Linked DNA regions of Homo sapiens: region 2 is linked to region 1. A link means that fine-mapping ties the variant in region 1 to the expression of a gene that starts in the linked region. Tissue or cell type: esophagus muscle. Region 1 holds a variant in brackets; the other region holds the start of a gene. All regions are shown on one strand. Distances are between the middles of the regions.

The links. PIP is the estimated chance that this variant, and not a neighbour inherited with it, causes the effect.
Region 2: it holds the start of SLC16A12, and the variant in region 1 is fine-mapped to the expression of SLC16A12 in esophagus muscle (GTEx, PIP above 0.99).

What each region holds. Positions count from the first base shown.
Region 1 is chr10:89,507,013-89,515,211 of GRCh38, reverse strand. The region is part of intron 2 of SLC16A12 (solute carrier family 16 member 12); the gene reads left to right. Among named protein-coding and RNA genes, the nearest start is that of SLC16A12, 24 kb to the left of the region's middle. The variant C/T (reference allele first, on the strand shown) is at 5,082.
Region 2 is chr10:89,532,116-89,540,279 of GRCh38, reverse strand. SLC16A12 (solute carrier family 16 member 12) reads left to right here and starts at 4,686. Exons shown (of 8, transcript NM_213606.4): 1 at 4,686-4,838; 2 at 5,640-5,779. RefSeq lists an enhancer at 5,520-6,419.

The DNA of each region.
Region 1 (8,199 bases):
ATCCATGTGTCCTCATGTAATCATCATCCATTGAAATTGCTCCCCAGTACCTAACAGGCCGCTTTTCTTTTCTTTTTTTTTTGTTTTGTTTTGTTTTGTTTTGTTTTGCTTCTTTTTTTTGAGATGAAGTCTTGCTCTGTTGCCAAGGCTAAAGTGCAGTGGTGAAATCTCGGCTCACTGTGACCTCTGCCTCCTGGGTTCAAGCAATTCTCCTGCCTCAGCCTCCCAAGTAGCTGGGATTATAGGTGCATGCCACTATGACTGGCTAATTTTTTGTATTTTTAGTAGAGACGAGGTTTCACCATGTTGGCCAGGCTGGTCTCGAACTCCTGACCTCAGGTGATCCCCCTGCCTTGGCCTCCCAAAGTGCTGGGATTACAGGCATGAGCCACTGCACCCGCGCACCCGGCCCGCTCCTTTTCATCTCTACAAAGTACAGTGGGCACTATTGTGGATTGATGGGTCATGTCAACCCAGATTTATGTTTAAGCCCTGTAAACATTGAGGAAACATTGTCACCCCCAATGTGATGGTATTTGGAAGTGGGGCCTTTGAGAAGTGATTAGGTTTAGATGAAGTCACAAGGATGGAGTCTTCATGATGAAATTAGTGTCCTGATGAGAACAGGAAGAGAGAAAAATCTGTCTCTCCCCATACATGCTCTGAGAAGGGCCATGTAAGCAAGCACACAGCCAGAGGGCCATTGTCTACAGGCCAGGAAGAGTGCCTTCACCAGAACCCAAGCATGCTGGCACTCTGTTCTCAGACATCCAACCTCCAGAACTGTAAGAAAAATGTCTATTGCTTAAGCCACCAGCCTATGGTATTTTGTTATAGCAGCCTGAGCTAAGACATACACAGTCCTCTGATAGTATCATTTCTTTCTTATTTGACTTCAGTGACACCAAGCTCTCCTGGACTGCTCTTTATCTTTCTGGCCACACTTTCTCAATTTCCTTGCAACCGCCTCTTTTCCTAACCCTTCCTAATCTCTTTCTTCTTCCACCTACCTGCAAGGCACCTTGCTACTCTTACGGTCTGTAGACCAGTGAAGGCGTCACTTGTGAGCTTGTCAGAAATGTGAATTTCAGATTCCACCCAAATCTGCCAAATCTGAATCCGCCATTTAGCAGGTGGTACCTAGGAAAATCTGAGAAGCCCTGCTCTTTAGGATTTCAGTTATCAACTGAATGATCTGATCTCCAAGTATACATCTGGACACTAGATCTCTCTCCTAGGCTCTTGACCAGTTCATCTAACAGGTCCACTTAGAGGTCTCACAGGGATATCACACTTTTATCCATCCAGAATCTGACTTCTTTTTTCCCATATATGCCTCTCCTTCTTTGAGCAACCAACAAAATATAGGACCTTTCCAGAAAGTTTTACTTAAGAATGCCCATTTAACCACATACTCCTGGTTTAAATGGTTTCTTTGGGGTCAGGGCTAATTGTCAGCTGGTGGGCACTGGTCTGACTAGTCCCTTGTTCTACTGGTCTCTGATTTCTCAGTGTTATCAGTCTCTTGCTAAATATTTTGATTTTTACCCATCAAGTCACATTTGATTAGTAACAAGTCTAACTTTTTATCTTCTGTGATGTTTCAAGGTATACATTTTATAAATATATTAAGTATTAATCATTATATTTGTTATTAATTCATTACAGATGCAAGTGGTAAATAAATATTTTTAATGGTGAGGAAATATGATATTCTCTAATTTTAGTGTCAGATTTTCAAAATATTTGTGAATGACCACAGTGAGTCCAAAGGAAGAACCATCAGGAATGCAGTGTGACCTGATATGTCACATGATTGAATCACACATCTTTTTGGGAGAGAGAAATCAGAGACAACGTAACTGTCCAACAAGAGGGGATTGGTGAAGTCAGTTACAGTGCATTCAAACAATCAAATACTTTGCAACCATTAAAATGATCAGACAGAGTACATTTATTAACATAAGTATACATCCATGGTATCATTATGTGAAAAGAGCAATATAGATTAAATGATCGCGGTTTCATTTTTTTTTAAATTATGGTTAAGTGTACATAACATAAAATTTACCATTTTAACCATTATTAAGGGTACAATTCTGTGTCATTAAGTACTCAATAGGAAAAACAAACTGTTTTCCTGTCTAGTCTATTCTCAATACTTGAGAAAACTTTGACATCAAAGGTATGGGGTTTTCCACACTGAGTAGTCCTCCAGTTCTCTACAGATACCACCTAGGTGTCCTGCAATTTAACTCAGTTCTGAAACTATCTACCTGGAGATAGCAGATCCCACAGATTAAGGACTCCATCCCATAAGACAGCCCCCACTTCAGATGCCAATTCCACGTCCTGGTTGGCACCCATACTTTGACCCAACCTGCTTTAAATCAGAGGTTCCAACCCCCTCTTGGGTTCGATCTTTTGCTAGAATGGCTCACAGAACTCAGAAAACCAATCTACTTACTAGATTAGCAGTTTATTACAAAGGATATATTGAAAGATACAGATGAACAGCCAGATGAAGAGGTACGTAGGGCAAGGTCCGGGAGATTCCCAAGCTTCTCTCTTACTGGACCTTTGGCTTGTGGATGCATTCTTGTTCACCAGCTTGGAGGCTCTCTGAACACTGTCCTTTTGGGTTTTAATGGAGGCATAATTGCATAGGCAATAATCATTAACCATTGGTGGTTAAGTCAATCTTCAGGCCCTATTCCTTCCCCTAAGGTCAAGGGTGGCTTGGGTTGGGGCAGAAAGTTCCAACCCTCTAATCACAAGTTTGGCTTCTCTGCAAACATCCTCCAACCTGAGGCTGCCCAGGAGCCTGCAGACACTAGTCATCTCATTAGTGTGCAAAAAGAAACATCACCTACAAGATTTGAAGTTTTCTTAAAATTCCTTATGATGGGGAGCGCAGAGACCAAATATTTCTCACTATGTCAGAAGTATGTTCACCATTCGCATTGTTGTGTATTAATCACCACCATCCATCTCCAGAACTTTTTCATCTTCCCATACTGAAACTCTGTGCCCATTAAATACTAACTCCCCTTTCTGCTCTCCGTCAGGCCCTGGCAACCACCATTCTACTTTTTGTGTCTATGAGTTTGACTACCCTAAGGACCTCACGTAAGTGGAATCATACAATGTTTGTAGTTTTGTGACTAGCTTTTTCACTTAGCATAATGTCTTCAGGCTTCATTTATTGTGTAGTATATATCAGAATGTCCTTCCTTTATAAGGCTGCGTAATCCATTATGTGCCACATTTTGCCTATCCATTCATCTATTAATGAACATTTGGGTTGCTTCCTCTTTGGGGCTATTGTTAATAATGTGTCTATGAACATGGGTGTACAAACATTTGTTTGAGTCCTGGCTTTTAATTCTTTTGGGTATATATCTGAAAGTGGAATTGCTGGATTGTATGGCAATTCTGTTTTTAATTGTTGTTTGTTTTTAAATTTTATTTGTTTATTATTATTATACTTTAAGTTCGGGGTACATGTGCACATCATGCAGGTTTGTTACAGAGGTATACATGTGCCATGTTGGTTTGCTGCACCCATCAACTCGTCATTTACATTAAGTATTTCTCCTAATGCTATCCCCTCCCCCAGCCCCTCCACCCTCCGACAGGCCCTGGTGTGTGATGTTCACCTCCCTGTGTCCATGTGTTCTCATTGCTCAACTCCCACTTATGAGTGAGAACATGCAGCATTTGGTTTTCTCTTCTTGTGTTACTTTGCTGAGAATGATGGGTTTCCAGTTTCATCCATGTCCCTGCAAAGGACATGAACTCATCCTTTTTATGGCTGCATAGTATTCCATGGTGTATATGTGCCACATTTTCTTTATCCAGTCTATCATTGATGGGCATTTGGGTTGGTATCAAGACTTTGCTATTGTGAATAGTGCTGCAATACACATACGTGTGCATGTGCCTTTACAGTAGAATGATTTATAATCCTTTGGGTATATACCCAGTAATGGGATTGCTGGATCAAATGGTATTTCTAATTCTAGATCCTTGAGGAGTCACCACACTGTCTTCCACAATGGTTGAACTAATTTACGCTCCCACCAACAGTGTAAAAGCGTTTCTATTTCTCTACATCCTCTCCAGCATCTGTTGTTTCCTGACTTTTTAATGATCACCATTCTAACTGGTGTGAGATGGTATCTCATTGAGGTTTTGATTTGCATTTCTCTAATGACCAGTGATGATGAGTATTTTTTTATAAGTTTGTTGGCTGCATAAATGTCTTCTTTTGAGAAATGTCTGTCCATATCCTTGGCCCATTTTGATGGGGTTGTTTGTTTTTTTCTTGTAAATTTGTATAAATTATTTGTAGATTCTGGATATTAGCCCTTTGTCAGATGGATAGATTTCAAAAATTTTATCCCATTCTGTAGGTTGCCTGTTCACTCTGCTGATAGTTTCTTTTGCTGTGCAGAAGCTCTTTAGTTTAATTAGATCTCATTTGTCTATTTTGGCTTTTCTTGCCATTGCTTTTGGTGTTTTAGTCGTGAAGTCTTTGCCCAGGCCTATGTCTGAATGGTATTGCCTAGGTTTTCTTCTAGGGTTTTTATGGTTTTAAGTCTTACATTTAAATCTTTTATCCATCTTGAGTTAATTTTTGTATAAGGTGTAAGGAACGGATCCAGGTTCAACTTTCCCCATATGGCTAGCCAGTTTTCCCAGCACCATTTAAATAGGGAATCCTTCCTCCCTTGCTTGTTTTTGTCAGGTTTGTCAAAGATCAGATGGTTGTAGATGTGTGGTGTTATTTCTGAGGCCTCTGTTCCGTTCCATTTGTCTGTATACCTGTTTTGGTACCAGTACCATGCTGTTTTGGTTACTGTAGCCTTGTAGTATGGTTTGAAGTCAGGTAGCAGGATGCCTCCAGCTTTATTCTTTTGGGTTAGGATTGTCTTGGCTATGCAGGCTCTTTTATGGTTCCATATGCAATTTAAAGTAGTTTTTTCCAATTCTGTGAAGAAAGTCAGTGGTAGCTTGATGGGGATAGCATTGACTCTATAAATTACTTTGGGCTGTATGGCCATTTTCACGATATTGAT[C/T]CTTCCTATCCATGAGCATGGAATGTTCTTTCATTTGTTTGTGTCCTCTTTTATTTCATTGAGCAGTTTGTAGTTCTCCTTGAAGAGGTCCTTCACACCCCTTGTTAGTTGGATTCCTAGGTATTTTATTCTCTTTGTAGCAATTGTGAATGGGAGTTCACTCACGAATTGGCTCTCTGTCTGTTATCGGTGTATAGGAATGCTTGTGATTTTTGCACACTGATTTTGTATCCTGAGACTTTGCTGAAGTTGCTTATCAGCTTAAGGAGATTTGGGGCTGAGATGATGGGGTTTTCTAAATATACAATTATGTCATCTGCAAATGGAGACAATTTGACTTCCTGTTTTCCTGACTGAATACCCTTTATTTCTTTCTTTTGCCTGATGGCCCTGGGCAGAACTTCCAATACTATGTTGAAAAGGAGTGGTGAGAGAGGGCATCCTTGTCTTGTGCCAGTTTTAAAAGGGAATGCTTCCAGTTTTTGCTCATTCAGTATGATATTGGCTGTAGGTTTGTCATAAATAGCTCTTATTATTTTGAGATATGTTTCATCAATACCTAGTTTATTGAGAATTTTTAGCATGAAGAGCTGCTAAATTTTGTCAAAGGCCTTTTTTGCAAATATCAAGATAATGTAGTTTTTGTTGTTGGTTCTGTTTATGTGATGGATTACATTTATTGATTTGCATATGTTGAACCAGCCTTGCATCCAAGGGATGAAGCCAACTTAATCATGGCGGATAAGCTTTTTGATGTGCCACTGGATTCGGTTTGCCAGTATTTTATTGAGAATTTTCACGTTGATGTTCGTCAGGGATATTGGTCTAAAATTCTATTTTTTTGTTGTGTCTGCTAGGTTTTGGTATCAGGATGATGCTGGCCTCATAAAATGAGTAAGGGAGGATTCCCTCTTTTTCTATTGATTGGAATAGTTTCAGAAGGAATGGTACCAGCTCCTCTTTATAACTCTGGTAGAATTCGGCTGTGAATCTGTCTGGTCCTGGACTTTTTTTGGTTGGTAGGCTATTAATTATTGCCTTAATTTCAGAGCCTGTTATTGGTCTATTTAGAGATTTGACTTCTTCCTGGTTTAGTCTTGGGAGGGTGTATGTTTCCAGGAATTTGTCCATTTCTTCTAGATTTTCTAGTTTATTTGTGTAGAGGTGTTCATAGTATTCTCTGATGGTAGTTTGTATTTCTGTGTAATGACAATACACAGAAATTGGTGGTGACATCCCCTTTATCATTTTTTATTCTGTCTATTTGATTCTTGTCTCTTTTCTTCTTTATTAGTCTGGCTAGCAGTCTATCTATTTATTGATCTTTTCAAAAAACCAGCTCCTGCATTCATTGATTTTTTTTGAAGGGTTTTTTGTGTCTCTATCTCTTTCAGTTCTGCTCTGATTTTAGTTATTTCTTGCCTTCTGCTAGCTTTTGAATTTGTTTGCTCTTGCTTCTCTAGTTCTTTTAATTGTGATGTTAGGGTGTCGATTTTAGATCTTTCCTGCTTTCTCTTGTGGACATTTAGTGCTATAAATTTCCTTCTACACACTGCTTTAAATGTGTCCCAGAGATTCTGGTATGTTGTGTCTTTTTTCTCATTGGTTTCAAAGAACATCTTTATTTCTGCCTTCATTTCGTTATTTACCCAGTAGTCATTCAGGAGCAGGTTGTTCAGTTTCCATGTAGCTGTGCAGTTTTGAGTGAGTTTCTTAATCCTGAGTTCTAATTTGATTGCACTGTGGTCTGAGAAACAGTTTATTGTGATTTCTGTTCTTTTACATTTGCTGAAGAGTGTTTTACTTCCAACTATGTGGTCAATTTTGGAATAAGTGTGATGTGGTGCTGAGAAGAATGTATATTCTATTGATTTGGAGTGGAGAGTTCTGTAGATGTCTATTAAGTCCACTTGGTCCAGAGCTGAGTTTAAGTCCTGGATATCCTTGTTAATTTTCTGTCTCATTGATCTGTCTAATATTGATAGTGGGGTGTTAAAGTCTCCCACTATTGCTGTGTGGGAGTCTAAGTCTCTTTGTAGGTCTCTAAATACTTGCTTTATGAATCTGGGTGCTCCTGTTTGGATGCATATATAGTTAGGATAGTTATCTCTTCTTGTCGATTGATCCCGTTACCATTATGTAATGGCCTTCTTTGTCTCTTTTGATCTTTATTGGTTTAAAATCTATTTTATCAGAGACTAGGATTGCAAACCCTGCTTTTTTTCGCTTTCCATTTGCTTGGTAGATCTTCCTCCATCCCTTTATTTTGAGCCTATATGTGTCTTTGCATGTGAGATGAGTCTCCTGAATACAGTGCACTGATGGATCTTGACTCTTTATCCAATTGCCAGTCTGTGTCTTTTAATTGGGGGCATTTAGCCCATTTACATTTGAGGTTAATATTGTTATGTGTGAATTTGATCCTGTCATTATGATGCTAGCTGGTTAGTTTGCCTGTTAGTTGATGCAGTTTCTTCATAGTGTTGATGGTCTTCACAATTTGGCATGTTTTTGCAGTGGCTGATGCCGGTTGTTCCTTTCCATGTTTAGTGCTTCCTTCAGGAGCTCTTGTAATTATGGCAGGCCTGGTGATGACAAAATCTCTCAGCCTTTGCTTGTCTGTAAAGAATTTTATTTCTTCTTCACTTATGAAGCTTAGTTTGGCTGGATATGAAATTCTGGGTGGAAAATTCTTTTCTTTAAGAATGTTGAATATTGGCCCCCACTCCCTTCTGGCTTGTAGGGTTTCTGCTGAGAGATCTGCTGTTAGTCTGATGGGCTTCCCTTTGTGGGTAATCCGACCTTTCTCTCTGGCTGCCTTTAACATTTTTTCCTTCATTTCAACCTTGGTGAGTCTGATGATTTTGTGTTTTGGGGTTGCTCTTCTCGAGGAATATCTCTGTGGTGTTCTCTGTATTTCCTGAATTTGAATGTTGGCCTGCCTTGCTATGTTGGGGAAGTTCTGGATAATATCCTGAAGAGTGATTTCCAACTTGGTTCCATTCTCCCCGTCACTTTCAGGTACACCAATCAAATGTAGATTTGGTCTTTTCACATAGTCCCATATTTCTTGGAGGGTTTTTTCATTTCTTTTCACTCTTTTTTCTCTAATCTTGTC
Region 2 (8,164 bases), 25 kb before region 1:
AAAAAATACAAAAACTAGCCAGGCATGGTGGTGGGTGGCTGTAGTCCCAGCTACTTGGGAGGCTGAGGTGGGAGGATCTCTTGAACCTAGGTAATCAAGGCTGCAGTGAACTGTGACGATGCCACTGCACTCCAACCTGGGTGACAGAGTGAGGCTCTGTCTCAGAAGCAACAAAAGAAGAAAGAAAGAAAGAAAAAGAGGCAAAGAAAGAAGGAAAGGAAGAAAAAAGAGAGAGCCAGAGAAAAGAAAGGAAGGAAGGAAGGAAAGAAGGAAGGAAGGGTGAGAGAAAAGAAAGAAAGAAAGAGAGAAAGAAAGAAAGAAGAAAGAAAGAGAAAGAAGGAAGTAATGAAAGAAAGAAAAAAAGAAAAAAGAAAGAAAGAAAGAAAGAAAGAAAGAAAGAAAGAAAGAAAGAAAGAAAGAAAAATTTGTTTCTTGGTGTCTAAGGAAGAATTTCACTATTTCCTTGTCCATGTATTGCCCTAATCTGTACAGCTGACTACGTAAAATACTTGCATCTTATTTATGCTGTTTGTATTTAGTCCTAAAATCTTAATTAGTCATGAGAACAAAATTTCAAATTCTATTTAGGCAAAAGCCTTAAGGTTTCATCCTCAACCCCCAACCTTCCAGTAGCTTCTATCTTGACCTGGACACCCCAAATATTACTTATCTGTAGCCAATGTTCCCTTTTTTTCTGTACTGAGTCCACACATTCTTGTTTGACCAAATAACAGGAACAAACAATTCTTTTCATAATGGATGTACCCTAAGGTGTCAGGCTTCTCAGAATCCTATCTGAAAATTAATTCCACTGAACCATGGTGCAATAGGATTTTAGTTAACACACGTGTTATTTATTGGCTACAAATGGTAGGGATTTGACAAAATATTCTGTGCCTCCAGGCCAGAAAAGTACAAATAGTACTCAATTCTGAGTAGGGAAGAAGAGGAAGGGAGAAAGTTAGAACACAACTATTAATGCATGTGGAGGTACCAGATCAGCTGACCACATCAGCGAAAGGTTACTTAACTAATAATGATGTACCATTAATGCCATGTCCCTATTAAAGAAAAAAAATATTCAATGTCACTTGTTACAGCATGGTAAAGAAGACTATTCAGGACCATTGAGACAGATACAGGGACCACTACAACGAAGACTTGCAGTAGGGTAGAGAGATGGGGCTCCACTATGAATACAGCAGAGGAAAATCGGAATTTATAGCCAAGAAACAGGATATGGGACTCTAGTTAAATCGACCTAACAGGATTCTTACTAAAGACAGGCCAAGGTGATTAGATATCACCTGGAGGACAGTGGAGGATGAGGAACCCTTGGGTGATCAGTTGTCAATGGGAAGGGACGTTATTGCCAAACTGATTTTGCCGGGTTCTTTGATAAACTGGAATTTACAAGGAAATACACACATGGTCTTAGGAGAAAGTTCAGGAGCCTGACTAAAGTTTGGCCAAGGAAAAAAATCTTTGTCATTCCCCAATATTTTTAAGGTAAAAGACTATTAATACTAATAAGGATTAATATTTTTTACACATGTATAATATGCAAGGCATTGAATTAAATACATTCTATAGATTAACTCATTTTGATTATCACAAAGCCTCGATGTAGGTTTAATTTTCATTCTATTACTTGCTTTTAGACAGATGAAGTTCTGACTATGACTTGGAAAAGCTGGGTATCTGGGCTCATTTCTTTACCAAAATCCTGGCCTCTAAGCGTCACTGTCCAGTAGAACTTTCTGTGATGAAGAAAACGTTTTGAGTGCTATCCAGTATGGTAGACATTAGCCACATCTTGGAGTGAAGCACTTGAAAGGTGATTAGTGCAACAGACTAGTAGTAAAAAAGAAAAAAGCAAAACACACACAAGAAACCTCAATTTTAATTACGATTATAATTAATTAACTAAAATGTAAATAGCCATATTTTATAGCCGTGTTGGGACTGTGCAAACATAGCACATTTCCATCACTGTAGAAAATTCTGTTGGACAGTGCTATTTGGAAGAAATGTTGCTCCTTCCCTTTCCTCCTAGGTTGGATTCTAGGGTTCCTTTGCTTTGCTTTTCTTCTGCACAGCGATAGCAGTCCAACATTCTCCACCCCCAATCCTCCAGCCTCAGTGAAAGGAGATTGTTTTGCTTTGTGCATCTCCCTTTCTCCACTTCCATGCTGCCTGTCAGCAGCTATGTCAGGTCTTGAGCGTGGAACCCCAAAGGGGTAGGCACACAGAAGTGACCCGTCTGTATCCGGCACTGCCTATACGCATTGCACTCACCATCACCATCATCAACCCACAGTTACTGAACTCGTAAAGGATGAAAATCATCCTGCCAGAGATAGAATCAGACACACAAAATCTGAACTTCTAATGAAACAACAACATCAGTGACACAGCATTGAATAGAATAAACACAGTATTAGCTTTGGTCTTTGCTAGAGCCCCCTGTAAGTGGTGACTTAGACGAAAGGAAGCCTTGTGCGGTGTCCTAGTCTCCAAAACTTTAAAAACTGTTGTCCTACATTATTTAAATGGAAAGTGAGACTTATTTGCCACCCAAAGCAATGTTTAACTGAAAGAAGCATTTTTCTGAAACTCAAAGGTATTCAAGCCTTTAACCTAAAGACCTTCACGGCTGAGAGGTCAGGGCTCACTCATGGCAGCCTCTACATTTACAGGTTCATTTTCAATGCTAATGAATTCTTTTACAAGCTGTATTTGTTCTTTCTTTTGTGAGTTTTGAACATTTATTCACTAATCATCACTTAAATCTAACCTAGGGTTTTTTGCAAGTGAAAATAGGACTTAAATTCAGATTTATAGTTAAAGGGCAGGAAACTGAGAGGAGGGGGATGACTAAAAATAGCCAGAGGGTAAAATGAGAAAGGACTATACTAGACTATTTAAAAAAACCCCTGGCTTGCACAGTGGCTCAAGCCTGTAATCCCAGTGCTTGGGGAGGCTGAGGCAGGAGGATCCCTTGAGCCTAGGAGTTCGAGACTGCAATGAGCTATGATCGCACCACAGCACTCTAGCCTTAGCGACATAGTGAAATCCCTTCTTTAGAAAACAAACAAAACGAGACTCCTTCCCAAAAAAAAAAAAAAAAAAAACATACCTACGGTGCCTTGCTGCGTGGCAAATGCTCCCTACTGTTCATCAGTAACTCTTTGTCGGGCAGATCATGAGGTCAGGAGTTCGAGATCAGCCTGGCCAACATGGTGAAATCCCGTCTCTACCAAAGATACAAAAAATTAGCTGGGCGTGGTGGCACGCGCCCGTAATCCCAGCTACTCCGGAAGCTGAGGCAGGAGAATCGTTTGAACTAGGGAGGCGGAGGTTGCAGTGAGCCAAAATCGCACCACTGCACTCCAGCCTGGGCGACAGAGCGAGACTGCTTCTCAAAAATAATAATAATAATAATTCCAAAAAGCCTAATTCATTTTGAAATTTTGACATACAGCGAAATCACCAGGGAATCTTGCAAAAAATGCAGATTCTGATCCGCGGTTGGGCCTGAGATTCCGCATTTTTAACAAGCACCCAGGTGATGACCTCGCTGTTGGTCTACGGGCCACTCTTGAAGAAGTGAGGACGTAGGCTCCAAGATATTGGAACCAGACCTTGTCAGTTCAGAGGCCTTGCTTCTGACAAGGAGAGGACTTTACAGAAAGTTCGCCTGGAACCTGTCCTACGTGGGGTACGTCCTGGCAGCTCCCTTTTCAGGCTTTGAGTCAACGTTTGGGGAATTGTATTATGTACCGGGCGCCTACACCTCACTCATTTCATACTCGCAGCAACAACATGAAGTGGGCGCTATCATCCTTTGTTTTACAAGCAAAAGTGAGGCTCAGAGAGTTAAATTGCCCAAGGTTATGAGATTTTCAGATGCGTTGAACCCAGGTCCTTTTGACTCCAAGAGATAACGCTTTTCACTAGCATTCTGGAGCTTCAGTTTCCTGTGCTGTGAAATGGGAAGGATTGGCTAGCAGGGTCCGGATCCCTGCCAGATACACCTAAAGGAGGCCTTGTATTTTTTCTCGAGATCTTGCTCTTTGACCCTGAGGGGAAAAGTTCTTTTTGGGAACACCGAGCTCCCCTCGGCTTGCCGAGGTCAGGGGTCATGGCTCTTCCCGGGGAGGGTCCGGCAGTCCTAGAGCGGTTTGGCTGGGGACACAGAAAGCCGGTGCATTACATAACCGCGAGACGTCCCTCCTCCGCTGCGCCCCTCGCCCCTAGCCAAGCCACAGTACTTAGAGCGGATCCCCGCGCTAAATCCTCTTTGCCGGCCAGGCAGAGTCCCCGGCGGAGCTGGCGGGGCTGAATGAGCCGGTGCATTTCGAAGGCCGAGCACTGGGATTTTCCGCGCTACGCTTCCCTCTCCCGGCGTTGCCAGCTAGGCCCCCGGCCCCAGCCTCGCCGGCGCCTCCGCCCAGTCCGCTCCCCGCCCCACCGAAGCGCGGATCGCGCAGCCTGGGGCCCGGGAAGGGGCCACTGCGCAGGGACGCGGCTCGGCGGGTGCGCCCCGGGGGCATGTCCGCGCGCTACCGCCAGGGCTGCAGTGGTCCCGGCGAGGTGAGGAGGCGGCGGGGCCGGGCTGGGGGCGGGTGTGGCAGGAGGGCGGGCGGGGCATGGGGGTGGTCTGCGCGCTCTGGGCGGGCTGCAGAGCGCTGGAGCGCTGGAGCTCTGGGCTGTCCCGGGCTCAGTCTCGCCGGCGGCCCCCGCTCCCGGATCCCCAGCGCCCTGGCCAAGAAGCTTCCTCGGCTCCCCCTCTTCCCTCTCCCTGACACGGTTGTGCAGAGGGCGCGGTGGCTCAGGTGACACGGGCATCCTTCAAGGAAGGGCGGCGGGACGGCGGGGCGCTGGCGCTGTCGTTGGAGCTGGAGGAGGACGGGGACCCTCCATTCTCCGCTGCCCTAGCGCCCATCCCGCGCCGGGAGCCTGGGACCCTAACTTGGGTGCGTCGGCGCGCAGCTTGGGTTGGGAGGGAGACACGTGCTCACTTGCCCTGTCTGGGTTGGGTCTGCGCTGCGGCCGAGTTTTTGGGCAGGTGGCTGGAGAACGAGCGGCTTTGATCTCCATCTCTTGTGGTTTTCAAATGCAGACTTCTCGGTGGAATAGAGACCATCTTTCTTCTGGATTTTATGTTTATAGTACATTTTAAAAATCTCTCCCCGTCCCCCACCTCAGACAATAATATTTATTTCCCGTGTGTGCTATATTAAAAACACACCGGCTTTCAGTGGATTGAACTCAATTTCTCAGTTGCTTCTTGTCCACAAATAAACCAGTGATACCTGTATTGTGGACTCGGAAAAGCGTTCGTAACAAAATTTTGAAGCACAATTTCAGTAAGTCCTGGGGCTATTTGGTTAGTCTTCCGTTTTCACACATCAGCATTCTAAACCTCTTATACTATTTATTTATTTAGAGACAAGGTCTCGCTCTGTCGCCCAGGCTGGAGTGCAGTGGCGCGATCTCAGCTCATTGCAACCTCCGCCTCCCCGGCTCCAACGATCCTCCCTCCCCAGCATCTGGAGTAGCTGGGACTAAAGGTGCGCGCCACCACGCCCGGCTAATTTTTGGATTTTTTTTTTTTTTTTTTTTTTTTTTTGCAGATACAGGATTTCGACATATTGGCCGGTTTGCTCTCGAGCTCCTGGGCTCAAGCGATCTGCCCGCTTTAGCCTCCCAAAGTGATGGGATTACAGGCGTGAGCCACCGTGCCTGGCCATAATTTTTAAAAATGTCTAGTCAGGTGAGTCCTGCCAGGAAACTGGTTAAACACTCTCCTTTTGAAGAGCCTCTAATTAGTTCATCCTACCTGGTTCTTTGCTCAGAGCTAGGCACTCCCGCGGCGTCACCAGCTTAGCCCAGGGGGAAAATCTTCCGGCCTTTCAAATTCAGAAACACATTCGCTCCACAGGTGTAAGCTCGCTAACAGTTAAAATCATCAGCTAGCTGCCCTTGCATTGTTTGTCGCTCCCCCTCCATAAATGTCGTGCCAAACTGTGGCTAATGGTGTTTGACATCCTCCACCCCCTGCGCCCCCAAGGTGACCGGATGTTTGCTGAAGAAATGAAGGATGTAAAAGAGTAGTGGTAGTAATTAGGTGAACTGGATTTAGTCACTTATAATTACAGGGTTTAGAGAAACTTTGAAACTGAAAGGCTTTGGAGACCATCTACTAAATTCAAACTCTTCACGTTACAGCCCAGGAAGCTCAGATCCAGATTGGCAAGGATTGGCTGAATTCATACTGTTAACTGGTGATGGAATCAACACTAGAATCCAGATCTTCTCATTCCCACCTAACTCAGTTTTCCAAGGCATATTGCCTCTAGGCATTTTGAGCAAAAATAATATGACTAGCATCACCTAATCACATCATTTTCCTGTTCTTATTTTTTATGTTTTTTTTTTTTAACTGATGGGATTCTGAAATAGATGAGAGGTTGATTTAATCAAATTGCTTTTGTGGCACAATTTTTAAAGGTGCAAACCTTTAATTTTAAGTAATATTTTAAATTATTTTTATATTATGGATATACAGATACTTCTCAGGTGAATGCCCAGAAGAAGAAAATTAGTCCAAATAGATGGGAGTAACTCTACCCCCATCTTTCCTTGGAGTCTTTTCTGATTCTCAGCACCCTCTATGGTAATGATCGATCAGAAGTAAAAACATGAATTATAGTGTTGAAGTGTTTTATATGAGGACTGTTTGTTTATTGTGATTAATACTATGACCAAAACAAAGCTAAGAAAGGAGTTTCAAAGTGACTTATTTAACATTGCATTGCACTGCATATTTTTCAATTTAGTTCAATTGAGCAGATATTTATTGAGTGCCTACTGTATGCCTAGTGCTGTTCTGGGCATTTGGGATATGTCAATGAACAAAACAAAGAACTTTGATCCTATAGAGCTCAAGTTGCAATTTATTCACTAGAATTTTTCCAGGATTTCTTAGGCAGGTACAAGAGAATTTCAGTTTTACCTAAGCAGGAAAATAAACATAAGTGATCCAAACTATCTTCCTTCCAATCCTGCAATTCTGAGAATCTTATAATCATGGAAAAAAAAAAAACTAAAAACGACAACAACAACAACAAAAAAACAAATTCAGGTGAAGTTACTTTGACTTTTATGAGCTGACATTTTACTGTAAGTGAATTGCAGTTCCCACATTTGGTTATTTAATATATGTTCATTTGGAGTCAATGAAATTACATTTCCTTTATTGCAGGGAGATCACCTTGGTGACTAAACTTGAAGCACGGGATGATTTGTTTTCTTAAGAGTGTTAGTGGTACCATGTTAGTATTGGAGACTAATTAAATTAGTTTATAAGATGTTGCTTTTTATTTATTTATGAAGATGGTGTTCTGTTGTTATTTTGTCTCACTTTACATTTTGTCCCCCACTTTCCTCCATATTCATAGACTATTAGACATTCCAGTTTTAAGCATTTTCTAATTCTCTCAATTGCTTTTTCTTCAAAACAGCATAGTTTGCAAGCTCAGGCATGTTTATTGTTTTTAACAAAGGCTTATCGAAATGAACTTGGCAGTTTTTCAGTCGTATACAGCCAAAGAAAAGTATTCAGTGCCGCTTTTGGGGTTGTTTATGCATTCCTCACCTAACCAGTTGCTTTGCTTTTAAAAATTGCCAATTTGGAAGCTATTTTCTTATGAGTACCTTTCCAGTGTATATAAAAAGTCACCCATTGAAATGATATAATAATTTAATTGATGAAAACTAAATACACAGTTGAAGAGGTTGGGGGATTTTGAACAGAAAGATTTTCCCTCTGATAATATTTTTAATGTGCTCTACATCAAAGGACATCAGAAAGTGTCATTATCTAACAATGTCCTGTTTGAAGGTGGTGTCTGTTGAACATTTGGGGAACAGTCACAATTTCTGATGCATGCTAGGCACCTGGAGTAGCTGATTTTTTTTTCTTCATTCACCCACCACTGTGCCCCATCAGATACATATCCTTCCTTCATTTACCGCGCATTGACGAGTAGGGTTAATTGCTGTAGCCAGGTAAGATGTTGCATGAAATTAATTAATTATTTAATTAGTGTGCTCATTCATTTATTAATTTAATGAATATTTATTGAACTTCTACTTC